Linked DNA regions of Homo sapiens: region 2 is linked to region 1. Evidence: fine-mapped expression QTL. A gene starts in region 1. The other region holds a variant in brackets. All regions are shown on one strand. Distances are between the middles of the regions.

Region 1 (9,064 bases):
TGATGTGTGTTTTCTGTTTCTTTGTTCCCTGTGGCCACCTCCTGATGCTAAGAGTAGATCAAAGTAAATGCTTCCATGGGGCGAAATGAGGGTCTTCAGCTTACACAGGTGGCAGTGCGTGGAAAGGAAAACAGGCACTCCACTGCAACACGGCCCGAGCCGGCCGGGCACAGAGGGGAGCAGGGGCCAGGCTCACCTGGCACTGAAAGGGTGGTACAATGGCAGGAGGCATCTTGGTAGTGACAGCCCTCTACATGTCTGAGCCCTAGGCAGCTGGACATGCCACCACCCTGCTCTCATCTGGACTGGCAACCTCTTGCCCGGTACACAGCTGCCCTCCTGCCCTCCCTCCTCTCCCACTATGTGGATCCCTGCCCGCTTACTAGATCCTCTGTTTCTTCCATCCCTCATTGCCCTCTTTCATGCTTTACACCCTTGTTTTGTTAGAGCACGTCCTCTGGTAGCTGAGAGATGGTGTGTGGGAAATAATTTTGTCGAGATCTCGCATGTGCAAATGTCTTTGTTTTAATCTCACGTTTGATTGTTAATTTTGTGAAGTAAGGGATTCCAGGCCAGAAATCACTTGCCATCAGCTTTTGAAGGCACGCTTTGTGATTGGTTAGCTGCCCTCTTTGTGTTGAGAATTCTGGAGCTATTCTCGTTCCTGCTCTTTTTTATGGCACCTGGAAACTTGGGGAAACATTTTTTTTTTTTCTTCAGTGATTTACTTTTCAAGATAATGTGCCTTGATATGAATCATTTCCATCGATTTTGTGGACAATTTGGAAACTTATTTCTGGAAAAAAATTCTTAAGTAATTGATGATTTCCTTTCTTCTCCTCCTCCTCCTTCTCTCTGGGGGCCCTATGGGGGTCGGGGTTAGAATTCCTTTTGTGTTGAGCCTCGTGAATTGATCATCTAGTTTTTTTTCATCCCCTCTTTCTTCTTTTTCTCCTCTTTGCCTTTTTGCTTTGCCTTCTGGGGCATTCCCTTACTTTTCTCTTCCAGCCTGTCTGTTGAGATGTTTTGTTTCTGCTCTCATGCTTTTAACTTCCCAGCTTTTTTGTTCTCTAAATGTTCTCCTTAAAATAGCACCCTGCTCTTGGTTCATGGATGCGGTATCTCCTCTGATCTCTGGGAGGATATTAAATACTGCTATTTCTGATGTTTTCTCCTCCCTGCCTAATATCTGTTTCCTCGAAGTCGGCCCCGCTCTGTTGCGTGTTTTGGCGGCTCCTTCTCATGAAGGCTTTCCGCAGGTGTCTGGTCATCCTTGGCTTTTTACTCACCTTAGGGGGGCTGCAAAGCTGGTTGGCAGCTCCGAGCAGGGAGTGGGGCCTGTGCTTGGAAGCAGCAAAGCTCTATCTTCAGGTTTCCCCTCTGGGTGCTGGTGAGATTCCCCAGAGGAGATTCTTCCGGCCTCCTGCCAGGAGGGTGGAGGTCAGGATGCTGACAGGTGCCGTGAGGGAAAAGGGGGGCTCTCCGTGCAGGACGCCCCTCTGTCCGCAGTGTCTGGCGGCCCCCAGGCCACAGAGGCTGCTTCAGTGTCCTCAGGGAATAAACCTCCAGAGGGGCTATCCGAGGATCTCCAGGCTTCCCCGGGTCTTGGGCCCCACGCCTTCTGAGCCTTCGGGGGATTCCATTGTCAGCCTTCCCTGCCTCTGGGCCGAGACTCAGCTCCGTGAGGGCGGGCCGCCACTTCTCCTGTGCCTCCCCGCTGCCCACAGCCGGCTACTGTTCTCTTTTCTCCTATTCTCCAGGTCGTTGGGGTTTATGCCTTTTTAAAGTTATTCTTATTTGAGATGGAAGTCTCACTCTTGTTGTCCAGGCTGGAGTAGTACAGTGGCGCGATCTCGGCTCTCTGCAACCTCCACCTCCCGGATTCAAGTGATTCTCCTGCCTCAGCCTCCCAAGTAATTGGGATTACAGGCACCCACAACCACACCTGGCTAGTTTTGCTATTTTTAGTAGAGACGGCGTTTCACCATGTTGGCCAGGCTGGTCTCGAACTCCTGACCTCAGGTGATCCACCCACCTCAGCCTCCCAAAGTGCTGGGATTACAGGCTTGAGCCACCATGCCCAGCCCCTTTTTAAAATTTTCTCTTTGTAGTTTTAGTGGGATTTTTCAGAGGGCACGAAATTAGCTCTGTGCCTTCAGTCGTCCTGTTGGCCCCAAGCCCAGTCTCCCTGTGTTTCTCTCCTAATGATTATTACCAAGGACTCCCCAGTCCTCCCCATGTGCTCACTTTTTAAAAATTAAAGTTTCCAAATCAGAGGTTTTAAAAATTCTCTTAGATGACGTCCCCAAATGGAAAATCTCCCGGTTAGTGCTGGTATGTCCTGCTGGCCCTGACACTTACTCTCTTCCGGCCAGATCCCTGTCTACGACAGCTGAGCACGAAGGGCAAACTCTCTGGGGCTGGTAATGAGGCCGGCCTGGCTGGGGCCTGTTCCCAAGGGGTGTCCTCACGCGCAGGCCCTGTGGCCAGTCCCAACCACAGAGGCCAATTTCAGTTTACCACCCGGGCGTCTGAGCAGGCCCACCGTGTCCTGAGTCCTGGGCTGGGACTGGTGGAACTTGGAACAAGATTTGGTGCTGTCTTCAGAGAGCTCTTCCAGAACGTCCCCAAGGAATGATTTACCGGGCCCTATGCTTTGCAGGGACCCCTCTTCCACTCGGGCACACAGCTCTGCCAGGTCAATGTGTCCCCACTTCACAGGCACATGCAGAACTCGCATGGGGAGCTGAAGGGAGACGGAGATGGGCTCGAATCCCACTCTTCGAGAGGTTTCTGCGAGGAGGCTCCAAAGGGCAGTAGGGTCTGGACCAGAGAGGAAAAGGCTCCCCAGGGAGAAGAAATGTGGGCAAGGGACAAGCGGGACCGACAGGGGGCACTGCCGGCACAGCGAGGCAAGAGCCCTGCCTGCAGGGAGACAGGTGCCTGCCAGGCAGTGGCTGGGCCCAGCCGGGAGTTGGAGGCCACGAAAGCCTGGACCATCTGACAGCAGAGAACCAAGAGGCCCAATTAGGGCTTTAGAGCTGGAATGCGCCATTTCAAATCCGGTGGCAGGGGAAAGTTCAGTCAACCAGGCGGCTGCCTTGCTCGTAGACACGGCATTTATCTGGTGGTTAGCTGTGGGGCTGTTTAGCTGTATGCTTGGAATTGTATAACACGATTCCCACCGGCCAAGACAGATCAATGACCCAGACGGGCTGGAGGGCCAGAAATTAAAAGCATGACGCTCATAAGTGGGCAGCGGCCACTGTCTTGGCCACCGTCTCTGCTGCCCTGCAGGGGGGGCAGCCAGCAGCCCAGAGCCCCTACTACCGAGAAGCTCCAAATCCATACTCCCCTCTTCCTGGCCTCTGGGTCTTCCAGGCCCCTACCAAACCCCAGATTCCATGATGTGCTTTTCACCTCACACAGAAAAGCAGGACAGTCAGGTGCGAGGAGGAGGCTAATTGTTCCAGGAGCAGCCTTCAGGAGCAAAAGTGACATGGGGACGGGTTTGGATCTGTTTGTGTGTAATTTGGAAATGTCCTTCGATGGTGCAGGCTCGTTTCTCCAGCCTGGTTGCTGCACCAGAATGTCTTTTGTTTTGGAAATGATTACTCAGCCTCCTGCCTAAACCTGTTTGGGACCGTCCAGACCTTCTTGCCCACTTCTGGTGTTGTGTGCCAGTGGTGGGCTGACCCCAGCAATAGATCTCTCCTGCCTTTCCAGAGGGTCCCCACTCCACTGTGTCCTCAGCCTCTGCTCTCCTGCTCCCTCTGCACCAAGGATAGAGACCCTCCCAGAACTCACACCAGGCCCCTTACTCTAGATGCTGGGGGAGGCTGGGACTGGGGACAGGAGCTACCTGATCTTTTGATTTTAGGGAAATCCTAAGCTGACCTCCCACAGTCCTTCCTCTCCAGCCAGGCACAGGTGGAAATGTTTAAATGGGTTGGGTTGGCCAATCTGGACTAACAGCACGGAGTGGGCCCGATCCCTTCCTTTCCAGTGGTCCTCCAGGAAGTCAGGGCACCTGGGCCTAGTGAGGGGGTTTGGGGTATGTGGGCAACTCAAAGGCATGGCATGGCATGCGGGGTGGGGTGGCATTCGTCCCTGATGCTTGGTGACCACGTCCCATTGCTGGGGATCCCTGGGCCTGGCAAAGAAAAATGGCCCCCAGGGACAGCGAGGCACAAGGGCAGGGGTCCTGTTAAGGGTCACCTGGGTTGATCCGCCCCCAAGATAGCTTGGAGGTGGGGAGGGGCAGCGGGCTTGGGGCTGCCCTTGAAGGGACCAGGGCAGCACTGGGTTCTGGGATCTTCCGTGTGTACCCCACCTCTTCTGTGCCCCTGCCCCGAGGAGTTGGCGCTGAAGGCTGCAGGGTGCTGACCGCCGAAGCCCACCCGGTCATGGCTCTCCCCGCTCCGCCGCCCTCCCCGGCCGCGCGACAGCCAGAGCCCCCTCCCATGCCGCGCGCTGCGCGCTCCGCTCGAGCTGCCACCGCCGCCCGCGCCGCCGCCGCGTGCTCCTGCTGCCGCCTCGCTCCAGCCGAACGAGCCAGAGGAACGAGAGAGAGAGAGAGAGAGAGAGAGAGAGAAGGAGGGCGGAGAGAGAGAGAGAGAGAGAGAGAGAGAGAGAGAGAGAGAGAGAAGGAGGGCGGAGAGAGGAGGGAGGAGAGAGAGAGAGAGAGGAGGCGAGGGAAGAGCGAGCGCGGGGCTGCTCCGAAGCCAGCAGAACCTCCTCGGACAGCGGCCCCAGCCGGGCCCCAGCAGCTCGCGTGGTCGGAGGAGAAGCAGCTGCCACAGCTGCCGCCCGAGCCCGGCCTCGCGCGCCCCTTGCCGCTGGCTCGCCGGTGCCTGTGCGGCCCCAGGACGCCGCTGCCCGCTCGGCGGCCGGGATGCAGCCGGGGCATGGCCGCCGGCCCCCAGTCACCTGCCGCGGGGAGCGCTGAGCCCGTGAGTAGCCTGGCCTCGTCGCCCGCCTCGCTCTGCGGCGGTCATTCCCATCGGGCTGAGCTGGGGGAGGGGGACATGGCCGCGGAGGGGCGCATGGGACCCCGCAGTGGGAGGCGGGCTGCTGAGCGCGGCCGGGGCTGACCCGAGGGCGCGTGGGGTGGGGTGGCGCCCTCGGGGTCAGGGGTCCCTGCGCGGGGTCGGGGTCCCTGGGTCCCTCCGGGGCTGGGGTCTGGACGCTCTGTCCGGCCGTGGGCCAGAGGGGCGATTTTGTGAATGGGAAGGCCCGGGGGTCGGGCTCCATGGAGACGCCAGGGAGTCCCGCGCGCTGCGTGGCGGTGGCAGTGGCGGTGGCGGTGGCGGTGGTGGTGGCTGTGGCGGCGGCGGCGGCGGCACAATGCCCGGCGCGGGGAACTCCCCGGCGGGGGGAGGCAGAGGCGCGCGGAGATCCCGGCCCCGCGGGGCGCGTCCGAGCAGGCAGCCGGAGCCCGCGCGGGTGGGAGAGAGGCTGGCGACCCGGCGGTGGTGCAACGTGCGTCTGTCGCGGCACCCAGGCCCGGAGAGAGCCCTGCCGGGGTCCTCTGAAAGGAGGGTCGCTGAGAGGTTGATGACCCAAAGGAGTTGTGGGGAGGAAGGGGCTGCCACAGCTCCCCAAATAGGAGCGGGGCCCGCAGCACCGCGGTGTGCGCGGGGGCCGAGCAGCGAGGGGCGAGCGGCGCGCAGGGCCCTACAGGGGGCGGGCTGGGGGCGCTCCGGGCCGAGTCCCCAAGCACGATAGGAAGGCTGGAACGGGAGCAGAGGCTGCCTCTCTGAAGCCTCGGCCACCCCCAGGGCCTCGAGCAGCGCGGCCGGGCTGGGAAAGCCGGGCACGCCCCTGGCCCAAACTTTCTGCCCTGGTGGCCCCGGGCGGTGGTGGGGCTCGCCCGGGGCGTGTTGGGCTCGCACGCTCGGGAAGGTGGTCTTCTGTGGCGTCTCGGGGTGGCGCGAGGCCAGTGGTCATTTTGGTGCTGGGGGTCGCAGCCTCCCTCCCCGGGACGCGGAGCCTCCCCTGGCGCGCAGCCCTGCAGTGTCGGTGCGGGGACCGAGACGCGGCGCCCCGCGTGGAGGGGCATTGGGAACCTGTCGGGTCCCCAAGCGGCCCTGGGATCCCTGGTATCACGTAGGGTGGGGGTGGGATGTTCCCGGAGTCCACTGGTGGGGGCGGGGGCCCAGCGAGGTGGGGAGAAACTCCTGGACAACAGAGCTGCCTCCCCCTCCCCTTTCCGTTCCAGCTTTGGCGAGGTACCTGATTTATTTAATGATCACTTTTAAAAAGGAGTCCCGCGGAGCCGCTAGTCCCGACGCGCGAGACACCCCACGGTGGAGGCTAAGGACAGAGACCCAAGGGATCCATCCCTGGGTTTAAGTCCCCCTTCCTGCCCCAGCTGGTGGTGAAGTCGCTTCTCGGGCGCGCAGGTTGCTAATTTCCTGCTCCAAACGCAGGTTGGACTCGGGGACGCCTTGGGCATGCACCCGGGCGCCCCGGGCACTTAGCGTGGAGCAGGTAGGAGGCTAATGGAGTGGGGTCGCCCGTAATGAGGTCTTTCAGCCGGAAGCCGGCTTCGGTTTTACTGGTCTGCAAAACATAATGGAAAAAAAAAGTATAAACATTGCGGCAGAACCTGCTCATTAAGTGTGCATCGCGGATTCGGGACGGATGTCTTAATTAGGCTGCGTTGTTCACGGGGATATTACACTAATTAAAAACCGACCCTCCAGGTGAGCAAAAATTGTGAGGGGAGAGAGGGAGAAAAGTTGTCGAGAAGGCGCTGCCTGATGAAAGCCGGGTATGGGCCTCTTGCAGGGGCGCCCCAGGTCACTGAGCGCCGGCGGGGTGGGGGCGTGGGGGCGGCATGGCGGGGGCGGAGGAGGGGAGCCTTCTTAGAACCATCCCGGCGCGCCTTCCTTCTCCGCCTCCTGCGGGCGAGGAGCTCCCTTTGGCCGAGGACCGAGGCTGGCCCCCCCGCCCCTCCCCCAGGACTGGAGGCCTTCCTGCGTGGGCGCCTCGCTCACCGCTCACCGCACACTCCTGGAAGCAACGCTTAACCCTTCATTTCCTGGCTGACAGCTTCTGGGAGGGCAAGGCTGTCCCCAGGAGGGAGACAGAGCGGGTGACGTGGGGACCACTGAAGGGGTTAAGGAGCAAGAAGCACGGTTGAAGGGACGCACCCAAGCCGAGACAGCCTGGGCCTGGCGAGGTGGCTGCGTGCGTGCGGCAGGGGTTGCCACTGGTGCTGGGCTGTTTGCGCTTGCACGGCCGGGGTTTTCTGGGGTGAGTTGTCCATTTCTAGCAGCTATCCACCCTCCTCCCCCCAAAGAAAAAAGGGAACCTGGGTGATTGCTTTGATCCACCTTCCTCAGGGGCCTGGGGCCTAGAGAGACCCGTGCCCACCCCGGGGACCTCGGGTCGCCTCTGGGTGCCAGGAGGAGCCAGGAGTCCAGGGAAGTCCCTAGGCTCCGCCCCTTACTCGGATGGGCCTTTGCGGCAAATGCTCCGCACCCAGTGACCTCGGTTGGGAGCCACAGCGGGGCTGGGAGTATTCACTGCCCTTCCGCAGGGACCAGAGGCGGATGTCGAGGGAAGGTGGCGGCATGGGCGGCCCCTGCCTCTGAGTGGCTCAGCAGGCACTCAGCGGGCGCCAGCACCAAGGACAGGGCCGGGGCCTCCACAGCCTGCCCTCCTCGCCCTCCCTCCTCTGACACGGTCCCAGGGCCGCTGGAGGCGCTGCGGGCGGCCGCCCTCAGGCTGCTGAGGACATGGGGAGGGCTCCCGAGGCTCATTCAAGAGCCAGAAAAGCCCAGGGCCTGCGAAGAGGTAATTACAGCAAGGAGGCCTCCTGGGTACCATTCCAGAGTGGGCCTTCTGTCCTGCGCCTGTCACTTACTCAACTTGGAGCGTGGCTGATGGCGCATCGGTGAAATGGAGAGATTATCGGGCTCTTTGGTGTCTAGGGATGAACTAGACACTGTAGTGGCCAGAGAAAATGCCATCTTCCCTGGCTGGTTCAGCCCTGTTGCCTCTCCCCTGCAGCCTTCTTTGACACCTCTCTCCCAGCCACATTCAGCCCTGGCCTAAGGCGCCTTCATACCGATGTGTGGCAGTTGGAGGTGCCTTGCTGCTGAGGGCAGGGGCCCTGCTTGGTTTATCTGCCCCCTCCCCCATATACGCAGATGGTGTTCTGACCCATGATGCCTGTGCAATTCGGAAGGAAGGAATGCATAAGTCACGCTCCTATCCCTCCCAGAAGCGCCAGAGTGGTGGTGGTAGGGGGTGGGGGGCAGTAAAGAGAGGAAAACATGTCAGTGGGCCAGAGCCACAGTGCTGAACGCGAAACTGCAATATTATTTTTCAGCCCTTGCAGGGTGGGGCTTCCCTCCTCTAGCCCAGCCCAGCCCAGAGCCTGCAAGTTTTGGTCGGTTGTCTCCCTGTGTTTATTTATTTCCACGCTCCTGCTTGATACTCTGTTATAAAGACAAATGGAACCTGACACGCAGCTGACATTTGGTGAGGAATTTTTTATTTTTAAACAAGTGAAGGGGAAGAAGCCATCTTGAAACTTTCTCCCCCTTCAACAGAGACCCGTTTGTTGGTTGGTAGGGAACCTACCATTCCCTAAATCCCTGCCTGCCACAGGCCCCTGCTCCTGGCACAAGGCACCGGCTTTATAAACACATCCCGTTTGTACCTCCACCCTTTGATAAGCTGCAGCATCTCTCCACGCTCTTTCATAAAGCAGCGCGGTATTTTCACAGGCTCATGAAACATTCAGGCAGCCTCAACATCTTACTTTCTGCTGCCTCTCTGAAGAAGGTTGCTCCCTGAGCCATCCCTGTCCTCTATAACGTCCTGGGTCTATCTCCCTGTCTCCCTGTCCGTCTATCTCTTCCTCTCCCCAACTCTTTTTTCCTCCTGTGCTTTCTGAGTGGCGCGGATGCTTAGTGTGTGATTGCCTCCTTGTGTGACCTGTGAGGGTTGAGGACGGCTCTTGGTTAACAGTTGCATGGCGGGCATGCAAGGAGCATTGCACACATACATATGCTGTGCATACCCGGCGGGGCCTGTTCTGGGTTGGGGA
Region 2 (9,064 bases), 510 kb after region 1:
GGGGCATCATCCAGGAGGGGTATGTGGCCATCTTGGTACCCATGCCTAGGTGGGCCTTGGCAGCCTCAGGGAGGAGGGGGCATCCTGGAGTCCAGCCTCTTAGCTGGTTCTGGTCAGAGAGCACTCTGTGGAGAGTCCACCAGGGAGCTGCTCCAGCTGTCCTGGGGTGCCTGGGAGCCTGGGGCTGGGTTTATGGGAACAGCCACATGAAGGATACAGGCCAGCAGGCCTGGGTCTGGGGTCCTGGGCCAGGCGGGGCTTTAGCCCGTGCTGGGAGCAGTGGGGGCCAAGGCTCCCGGAGGGCAGGCAGCATGGTGGAGAGAGGAGGCTGGGGCGGGGGGTGCCGGGGGCTAACGGAGCAGGGCGGGGAGGAGTGGCCAGTGGGTCTTCCAGGAGGCTAATCCTCCCTCTTCCTCTCTCTCCTTCCCTCTTTGAACAGGTCAATAATGCCACGGCCCGAGTGATGACCAACAAGAAGACGGGGAACCCCTACACCAACGGTAAGGGGCTGGGTCCCCCCACAAGGCTGCTGGGGTCACTGGCTGGGACAGAGGCCCTGGGGGAGCTGAGGCTGCTGCAGGCTGACCTTCCTGGATCCTAGGCAGCCTCCGTCCCCAGTGTCCCAGCCCTGGGGCTGCCGCTCTGCTCCCGGTCAGAAGCGGGTGGGGCAGAAGAGGCGGGAGGAGAGCTGGGGGCCACTCACCCCTCTCATGGCCCCATACAGTCAGCCATAGCTGGAGTCTCACTTTCCCAGGCGTGCCTGGCCCCCAGAGGCCACACGTGCAGGCTTCTGATCCAGGGGGATAGCTGTGCCTTCCTGGATTAGGACTGACTTTCCCCCAGGGCCAGAGTTTGAAGGCTTCTGTGCTGAGACCTGCTGCACCGATTCCCAGTGTAAGCAGGCTCAGGGAGGGCAGTGAGGGCACGGGGGGCCTTGGATGAGCTTCTAGACCTCTCTGAGTTCCAGTCTCTTCATCTGCAAAACAGGAATAGTGACACCATCCCCCAGAGCTGTTCGATGACAAATGACACCTTTAAGCACCATGAGGAAGGGCCCGGGGGGAGGTGCTCAGATTTCGGAGGATGTGATTACAGTAACTGCCTTCCTGGGGCTTTTTGACATGGGTGGCCCTGAGGCCCCAGGCTGAGCCCTGCTGTCCACAGCAAGGGGAGACTGAGGAATCTTGTGTGTGTGCACCCCACTGCAAACGGAGGTGGCCGGTCTTCCTTGGAGATGGATCTGCCGACGCTAAGTGCTGGCTCTGGAGAAGCAGGGGGACCACTGGTGGCCACTGCGAGTCTTAACTCCATCCGGCAAGGGGCCTGCTTTGAGCAGAGCAGGCGTACGTTGGGGGCCTCCGCTCATTCCTGCCAGGGAGCAGCTTCCCACTCGGACCCCTTAGAAGCCTCAGCGCTGCCCCTAGACGGGATGGATCTCCCTGTTGCCGTGGACTTTCAGACGGTGTCACCCCCAGCCTCTCATGGCCCCCCATGTGATCGGCCATACGTGGAGTCAGGTGACAACCAGCATGGAAGCCTGGACAGGACCGCCCGATCCGCCACCTCTCCCCCGAGCTCTTCTCCTGGTGTCCGATGCTGGGGTGGGGCCGGGCCTCTGGCCTGGCCCAAGTTAGACTTGATTCTCATGGCCTCATATCCTGCTTTTCTGAGGACTTACACATCTCAAATTCTTTTTAAAAATTTGGGAGTGTTCCCACTTTGCAAGCATCCCGAGTGCGTCCTGGGTGTGACTCTTCTGTGATCTGGCACTTGGCACAGGAAGTAAAAGCGGTAGACATTTTTATAGGGTACAGGTGATCAACCAGCGGGGCTGCAAAATCTCTGGAACCAGCTGCCCACTCTGCACCCAAGGGCCACACCCACCGCTGTCTGGGCAGAAGTGAGAATTCAGGGGAGCATGGAAATCAGAACAGACCCATCTCTGAATGGCCTCGGGCTATGCGGCTCATGAGGGGCACGGAACCTACACCAGTGAAACATCAGGGAATGGAGGGAGGTGGGAACCTTTGCCCACCTTTGCAGCAAGAGCCGTTTCATCTCAATCTCTTCATCAGCCTGGGCACAGAGGGCTGCAGTGGGACGGCCCTGGGTTCTCTGCAGGTTGGCACCGAAGCCAACCCATGGGCTCTGGTGGCGAGTGCTGCGTGACTTGGCTTCAACACTACCCAACACTCTGGAATTCATCAGTTGGGGGTGGAGGTTTCCATTGTAGAAAACAAACCCACCAGGTTTGCCCAGGTGTTAACTATTTACGGTAGAAACAGGCCAGCCAGGCAGTCTCAGGCTGTCTCTGCCATCTGGGGTTCCAGACAGTGAAATGGAGGCAGCAGAGACAGGTGGAGGCTCCCAGAGAGGCAGAATTGACAGGGGAGGGCACCCAGGAAGCCAGAATCACCGGTGGAGGCATCCAGGAAGCCAGAATTGACAGGTGAAGGTGCCCAGGGCCATCTGAAGCACACATGCAGCCTCCAAGTCTCACTCGCCCAGAGTGGACCCAGAAGAGTCACTGGATGGAGCCCCGGGGAGTCTGGGCTTGGGGTCAGGGTCTCCAGGACTCTGCTCCATCATGGGCCTTCTAGTAAGAAGAGTCAGTTCTTCGGACTGGAGGTCTTCCCAGAAAACAAAACATTTCTTTCAGCCTGATGCAGTGGCTCATGCCTGTAATCCCAGCACTTTGGGAGGCTAAGGTGGCAGGATCCCTTGAGCCCAGGACTTCAAGACCAGCCTGAGCAACACAGGGAGACCCTGTCTCTACAGATAGTTTTTAAAATTAGCTGTGGGTGTAGTGGCAGGCACCTGTGGCCCAAGCTACTCGGGAGGCTGAAGTAGGAGGATCGCTTGAGCCCAGGAGGTCGAGGCTGCAGTGAGCCGTGATCGTCCACTGCACTCCAGCCTGGGCAACAGAGCAAGAAACTGTGCCCCCCTACCCCCAAAAAAAGTTTCTTCCTTCCTAACCTGGGATTTATCTTTTTGGAAGATTCCAAAGTCCCAGCAATGGCGTCCAGACACAAGGTTGTGTGATGGTGGGCCGGGGATGCGGGGTGGGGTGAAGACTTGGCCAGAGGGAGGAACATACCCCGACCCTCCGTCCTCACTGCCTCCAGTCTGCCTGCCCTGCAGTGGGGTTGTTAGAATCTGGGTCAGGGGTTCACACATGGCCTGGGCCCACTGCCACCCTCTCCAGATGTATCTCCCCAGCTGGCCAGTGGGCTCTCGTCCCTGCTGTTCCTCCCCACCCAGTGCAAAGGGACAAGGAGCCGGGCCCACGGGGCATGCTGTAGAGATAAGACCTGGGTACACTGAGGAGGGGTAAGGGGCTGGGCCTCGTCAAGAAGCCCTCCTGCCCAACCTGTCGGAATGCCTGGAGCCGGAGCCCACTGCAAGGCAGCTGGTGTCCCCCGCAGAGGCCTCCAGGTGGAGCAGGTCTTTGCTCTGCTCCTGGGTTCCCCCGGGGAGAGGAAGACTGGCCCACCTGCAGGAAGGGAGAGGCTGGGATGCCGATTACAGGCTGGGATCCCTGGCTCTGCCACTCCCCAGCTGCTGACGGGAGGTTGCTGTGCCTCTCCAGGGCTGTTTCTTCATCTGCAAAATGGGGAGGGTGTGGTGGCTCACTGGGCAGGGAGGACCCCGTGAGTTTCGAACAGTCTGTGTGGCTCACACACAGTGTTGAGGAAAACCAGCCCATCCTTATTATCATTCCCAGTCCAAATGCCCTTTCCTCCTCGACCTGCTCCCAGGCCACCCTCCCGGACAGCCGCTCTGGGGGAAGATGAGGACGGGAGGAAAGTGAGAGCAGGACTCAGCACGGGGAAGAGGGAGCAGGACGGGGACTTTGGCAGGCAGTGGGGAGAGCTTATGGGCAGAGTCCAAGCGCCTTTCCTGCAGCCTCTGGCCACCTGGAGCTCGGATGGTGGGGCTGTGCTGAGTCTGACTCCAGAAACCCTCATCCCAGCTGTGCTCAGGGGGGTAGATAACAAGTTCCACTTTCCCTCTCCAGTTCTCTTCTGGGAGGTGGGTACCCCAGGCTTCGGGGGATGACGCCCAGGGGTGAGGGTTGCTCAGGGGCAGGCTGAGGAGGATCACAATTGGGAAAGAATCCTAGCAGACCCCCAGGCAGAAGAGTCAGGAAGGAGTAGACCCTGGTGTTTTGAACTCAGCACTTGTCCGGGCAGTGTGGGAAAGGGGGGCCCGGCGCGGGGAGGCGCCCTGGGAATGTTCCCAAGGGCTCCACCGGTGTCGCTGGGGTTCCCAGGCATACGTTTTGGTGGGAAAAGGGTCGGGGAAGGCAGTGACTAGGTCTCTGTGCCTTTGTTTTAGGCTGGAAGCTAAATCCAGTGGTCGGCGCAGTCTACGGGCCTGAATTCTATGCAGGTAAAAGCTGGGGCGGGGCGGGGATGGGATGAGACCAGC[T/C]ACTTGGCCCCGTGGGGCTCCGGGGGCTCTGGGGGCGGGGCATGAGGGGCGGGGCCAGGTGGGCCGTCCCCGCCCTCCCGTCGCCGTGTTGACTGAGTAGCGCTCCGGGGGCGGGGCTTGGGGAGGGGTTGGGGGCTAGGTGCGCGGGGGGGCTAGGTGTACGGGGAGGGGGTGCCAGGTGGGTCCCCTTGTGCCTCTCACACGTGTCTCGGGCCCCGTTTCCTGCAGTGACGGGGTTCCCCTACCCCACCACCGGCACAGCCGTTGCCTACCGGGGCGCACATCTTCGGGGCCGGGGCCGGGCCGTGTATAATACATTTCGGGCTGCGCCACCCCCACCCCCCATCCCGACTTACGGAGCGTGAGTACCTGGGCCGGGGGAGGCGTGGAGGAGGGGGTAGGACGGCGGGGAGGAGGGAAATGGGGAGGCCCTGCGCAGTGCGAGGGGCTAGGCAGCCTTTCCAGACCTGGGGGGGGGGAGGATCGTGGGAGCCCCAGAACTCAGCCCTGCAGCTGCCTCCATTATCTTCACCCCTATCCCCACCACGGCGGGCATCGCGGAGGTCACTGGCATTTAGGGGGACATTCAGAGCCCCAGAACCTTGTCTGGATGCTTTAATGGGGCCGTTGTCCACTCTTGAGGTCAGCGAGGGGCTTCTCTGAGCCCTCTCTGCTCCCATTCCCTGGGGTCTGGTGCCCTCCATCACTAAAGGGGTGGGGGGCACAGCTGCCTGGGGTCGGGTGGGCTATGGGCCCCGGGGTTTGTGGGAGAAAGTTGCTGATCAGCAAGGGTGTTACTCTATTGTTATACCAAAACAGGGCACTGGAGCAAACGCTTGTTAAAATGCCAGTCCCATGGGCGGGGCTGGCACCGTGCCCCCTCCCTCCTCAGCAGACACCGGAGCCGGCCTACCCCACCTCTCCAGCGTTCCCACCACTTTCTTGTCCGTTTGCTTCCAGGGTCGTGTATCAGGATGGATTTTATGGTGCTGAGATTTATGTAAGTGTAGCCCCGCCGGGAGGGAGGGTGGGATCAGGCGTTCTGTGGGTCTCAATGAGAAGTCGGCGTCTCCTCTCTCACTGCCCGCTCCTCCCATCCCATCCCATCCCACCCTTGAAGCCAGGAGGGCGAGGGTGCCACGTCTGCCCAGAGTATGGCATCCCTGAGAATCCCAGCATGGCACAGTTTGGTTGTTGGTACCCATCAAGGGAGCAGTTAATGGGCCGCCCAGCAGCCCTGTGAGCTGAAACCATCTTCCTGTGGGCAAGGCCTCATATAATGGGGGCAGTGGGACTCTGCCACGTCCCTAACCACGCTGCGGTCAGTGAGTGAGCCCCTAAGGCACCCACAGCACGGGCTGCAAGAGGGGCCAGGAGGCAGGGCCCCTGGGTGCCTGTGCTCCAGGGCCTACCCCCCTTGATGGGGTCCGGTGGCCTTTCTCCCCCTTCATGGGGCCACATGTGCTGCTTCCTCTGTCTCAGACTCACTGACGGCCACACCCCATGTACCCAGCCACCCTTCAGTCCTGGGCAGCTGCCTACAATTCAGTTACCTGCCCATTTGAGGCCAGGACATCATCTGAGCTCACGTCCTCTTGTGCCCTTTACCCTTGACCCTTCCTGGTGTCCAGGACACTATCCAGAGTCACTGTGGGTTCTCCCAGCCCCTCAGCATCCAAGTCAGGCCTCAGTGGCCTGGTGGCAGGTCTGTGAGCACCTCTTCCTTGCCAAGGCCTAGCACCCAGCCAGATGAGTCATGGGTACCCGCTAATGTGTGTGGAGTGCACAGATGGATGTGTGAATGAATGAGTGAATGAATGGAGTGGACAGGCAGACCTGCCTCGCCCTGAACTGTGCCACCTAGCCATCTGCAGTCCTCGGTCCTGTGTTAGACCAGAACTAGGTGCCCAGGCCAGGTACCACCTAATCCTTACCCAGCCGAGGCTGGGAGGCTGGGAAGGTCTGTAGTCCCTCCCAGGGCCCCACCCGCACAGGGTCTGTCTCCTCTCCCCACTCAGCCTTTCCCTGGGGAGCCCCACTAAGTCCCTCTGCTCTCTCTCCTCCCACTTACCCTGCAGGGAGGCTACGCAGCCTACAGATACGCTCAGCCCGCTGCAGCGGCGGCAGCCTACAGCGACAGGTGAGGCCGGGGGCCAGCACTGTTCTGGAGCAGGGTGGGGAGAAGATGGACAAGGATCCCTGGGGAGCTGGGCCCAGACAGGCAGGAGGCGTAACCCACTCTTCCAGGCCTGGCGGGAGTAGGGTCGGGACAGGGGAGCAGGTCTGAGTGTGGCCCTTGAGCCAGTGAGCCCCTGACTTCAGTCACTTCCTGCTTACCCCATGGGGAGGCTGTGGAAACCCCAGGTGGAGACCGCATCTCTGATTCCCAGTCCCCCCACCGCCCCCCGCAAGCCCCGTGCCCACAGTGGCTGTCTGTCTTGGAGGCAGACGCTTGAGTGCTTCCTCCTGGAGCAACCTAGCCTAGTGCCTTTCCCCTCAGACATCTGGCCTGTTGGTAGCTGAGCTCCACCACTCTGGTCTGGGGACCGCTTGTACCCCCTCCCTCCTGGCAGCCCCGGCTCCATCTCCCTGAAGTGTGGTGTACAGGGTGCCGTGGCCCAGCTCTGCTCTCTAAGGAGCTGAGAGTTCCCTGCACAGACAAACTGCTGAAGGGAAAGTCGTGAGGGACACAAGTGTCACATTCTTGGGGGCAGTGTTCCTGGTCCCTCCTCGTTGACCCTCTCTCTTCTCTTGAAACCCTCCCCAGTATTTACCACATTCTTTTTGGGGTGGAAGTTTGTTTTCCCTGCAGACGAGCTCCATGAGGACACCATCCCCCTCCACGTAGCACTGAGTGGAACACACCCCCTCCCCCCACCCCGTCAGGGTCAGCACACTGTGGGCATATTGAGAGGGTTGCCTGTTGTGTTCCAGAAGCTTCCTTCTTAACAAGAAGGAGGGGTAGGCCTTGCAGGCCTTGCAGGAGGGGAGGGTGCCTTGCAGATGGGACCTCGGTACAGGGTGCCCATGTAGTGTCTGGGAGGAGGTGGGAGGCCGTTGCTGCCCCTCACCTGCCCCCCTCCCCCACCCTCCTCCCACTCCCCCTCCCACGCTCTTCCCTAGTTACGGCAGAGTCTACGCAGCTGCCGACCCGTACCATCACACCATCGGGCCCGCGGCGACCTACAGCATTGGAACCATGGTAAGGAGCCCAGGCCCGCCCAGCCCTGGGTGCCAGTCCTAACAGCTGGGCATGGGTGGTGAGGCCCTTGGGGGAGAGGCCGAGCCCTCTGACCAATGCCTTGGTCCCGGAGACTTTGGAAGGACCACGGCCTGGATGTGAGTTAGGGTGAGGGGAGGGCTGGCCCCTCACGCCCTCTCAGTTGCGGGGAAGCAGGTTGAATGGCTGGTCAGCCCACCGTACCATCTGGTCCTCTGGAAAGCACCCCAATGTGCCTGATCCGTTTCCCTGAGCTCCCTCACTATAATAAAGTCCCGTTGAGGCCCCTCCATTCCCATTTCCACCAGGAAAACCTCAGAAACCAAACCAGGGCCGCCTCTCCTTCCCAGCAGAGGCTCCCAAGGCCCCGGGGCTGTTTCTGCCCACACCGCATACCCACGGCCCACCCGCACTGCTGCAGCCCCCTCGCATCGCATCCGAGAGGGGAGTGTGGGTTACCGGTTGCTTCTCACCAGGCTCTAGCTCCTGGCTTCCTGGGGGCTCCTGGCGTCCTGGGGAAACAGTGCCTGCTCTGCCCCAGCCTCCTCCCTCAGGCTGTGGGGTGGAAGGGGCGGGGCGGGGAGGTGCGCGGCGTGGCGTGTCTCTGTGTGTGTGTGTGTGTGTGTGTGTGTGTGTGTGTGGCCAGCTGTTGACACGTGCAGCCCAGCTCACTCTGCACCCAGAGCTGCTTCCAGCAGACACCTGCCTCCTGTACCCACTGGCCCCAGCCCCGGGGTGTGAACACGGGTTTTAGCTAGCTTGGCATCCAGCATCAAAGATGAAAACATCTTGGGAGAGTGAGGAGGGAGGAGGTTCAGAGGCAATATGGATTTTTCCCATCTTTCTTGGTTTTGATGACTCCCTCCAATTTTTTTTTTTTTTTTCAATTTTTAACGAGCCTCAGACACCCCCAGCAGCCTGTGGTGGCTGTGGGCAGCCACAGGCGCGGGTCTGGTGCGGCCCCACCCGGATGGAGGTGTGATACCCTGGCTCTTGGGCCCTCCGTGCAGCTGCAAGCTAAAAGCTTTCATTAACGCACGGAGGGTTCCCTCTTGTGTTTTCACTTTGTATTTTTAAGATTTTCTATTTTTCCCCAATTTTTCTTCTCTTGCACTTGCTGTGTTGTTCTTTTCTGGGAAAACTGGGTGGTGGGAGGGTGGGAGGCCCCTTCAGAGCCTTCCCTGACTGGAGGCAGCCCAGGACATGGGAGAGCTGGAGCATCCAGGACCCGCTCTCCCCAGTAGGACAGGGCTGGGCCTCAGGTGGGCCCAGGAGGACCCAGAGACCCCCCCAGAGAGCAAGGCTCTGAACACTATGCCCAGCAGGCTTGCCTCTCCCAGCGTAGCTGGCTTCAGTGGCCCCAGGCTCTTGAGCCAAGGCCCAGGAACCCGCCAGGAGGTCCCTCAGTGCTCT

Alleles and levels. Alleles are on the strand shown, and positions count from the first base shown. SD is a standard deviation of normalised expression in the study named.
As copies of T replace C in region 2, the expression in tibial nerve of the gene that starts at base 4,727 in region 1 goes up (small effect, 0.26 SD a copy in GTEx).

What was found. PIP is the estimated chance that this variant, and not a neighbour inherited with it, causes the effect.
Region 2: its variant is the best candidate, but not a certain one, in a credible set for the expression of RBFOX3 in tibial nerve (GTEx, PIP 0.71).

The regions. Positions count from the first base shown.
Region 1 is chr17:79,606,714-79,615,777 of GRCh38, reverse strand. It overlaps RBFOX3 (RNA binding fox-1 homolog 3), which reads left to right and starts at 4,727. Exons shown (of 15, transcript NM_001350451.2): 1 at 4,727-4,952.
Region 2 is chr17:79,093,020-79,102,083 of GRCh38, reverse strand. RBFOX3 (RNA binding fox-1 homolog 3) reads left to right here. Exons shown (of 15, transcript NM_001350451.2): 9 at 440-500; 10 at 4,339-4,392; 11 at 4,660-4,792; 12 at 5,251-5,431; 13 at 6,510-6,571; 14 at 7,555-7,633. Among named protein-coding and RNA genes, the nearest start is that of ENGASE, 23 kb to the right of the region's middle. RefSeq lists an enhancer at 3,260-3,973. The variant T/C (reference allele first, on the strand shown) is at 4,432.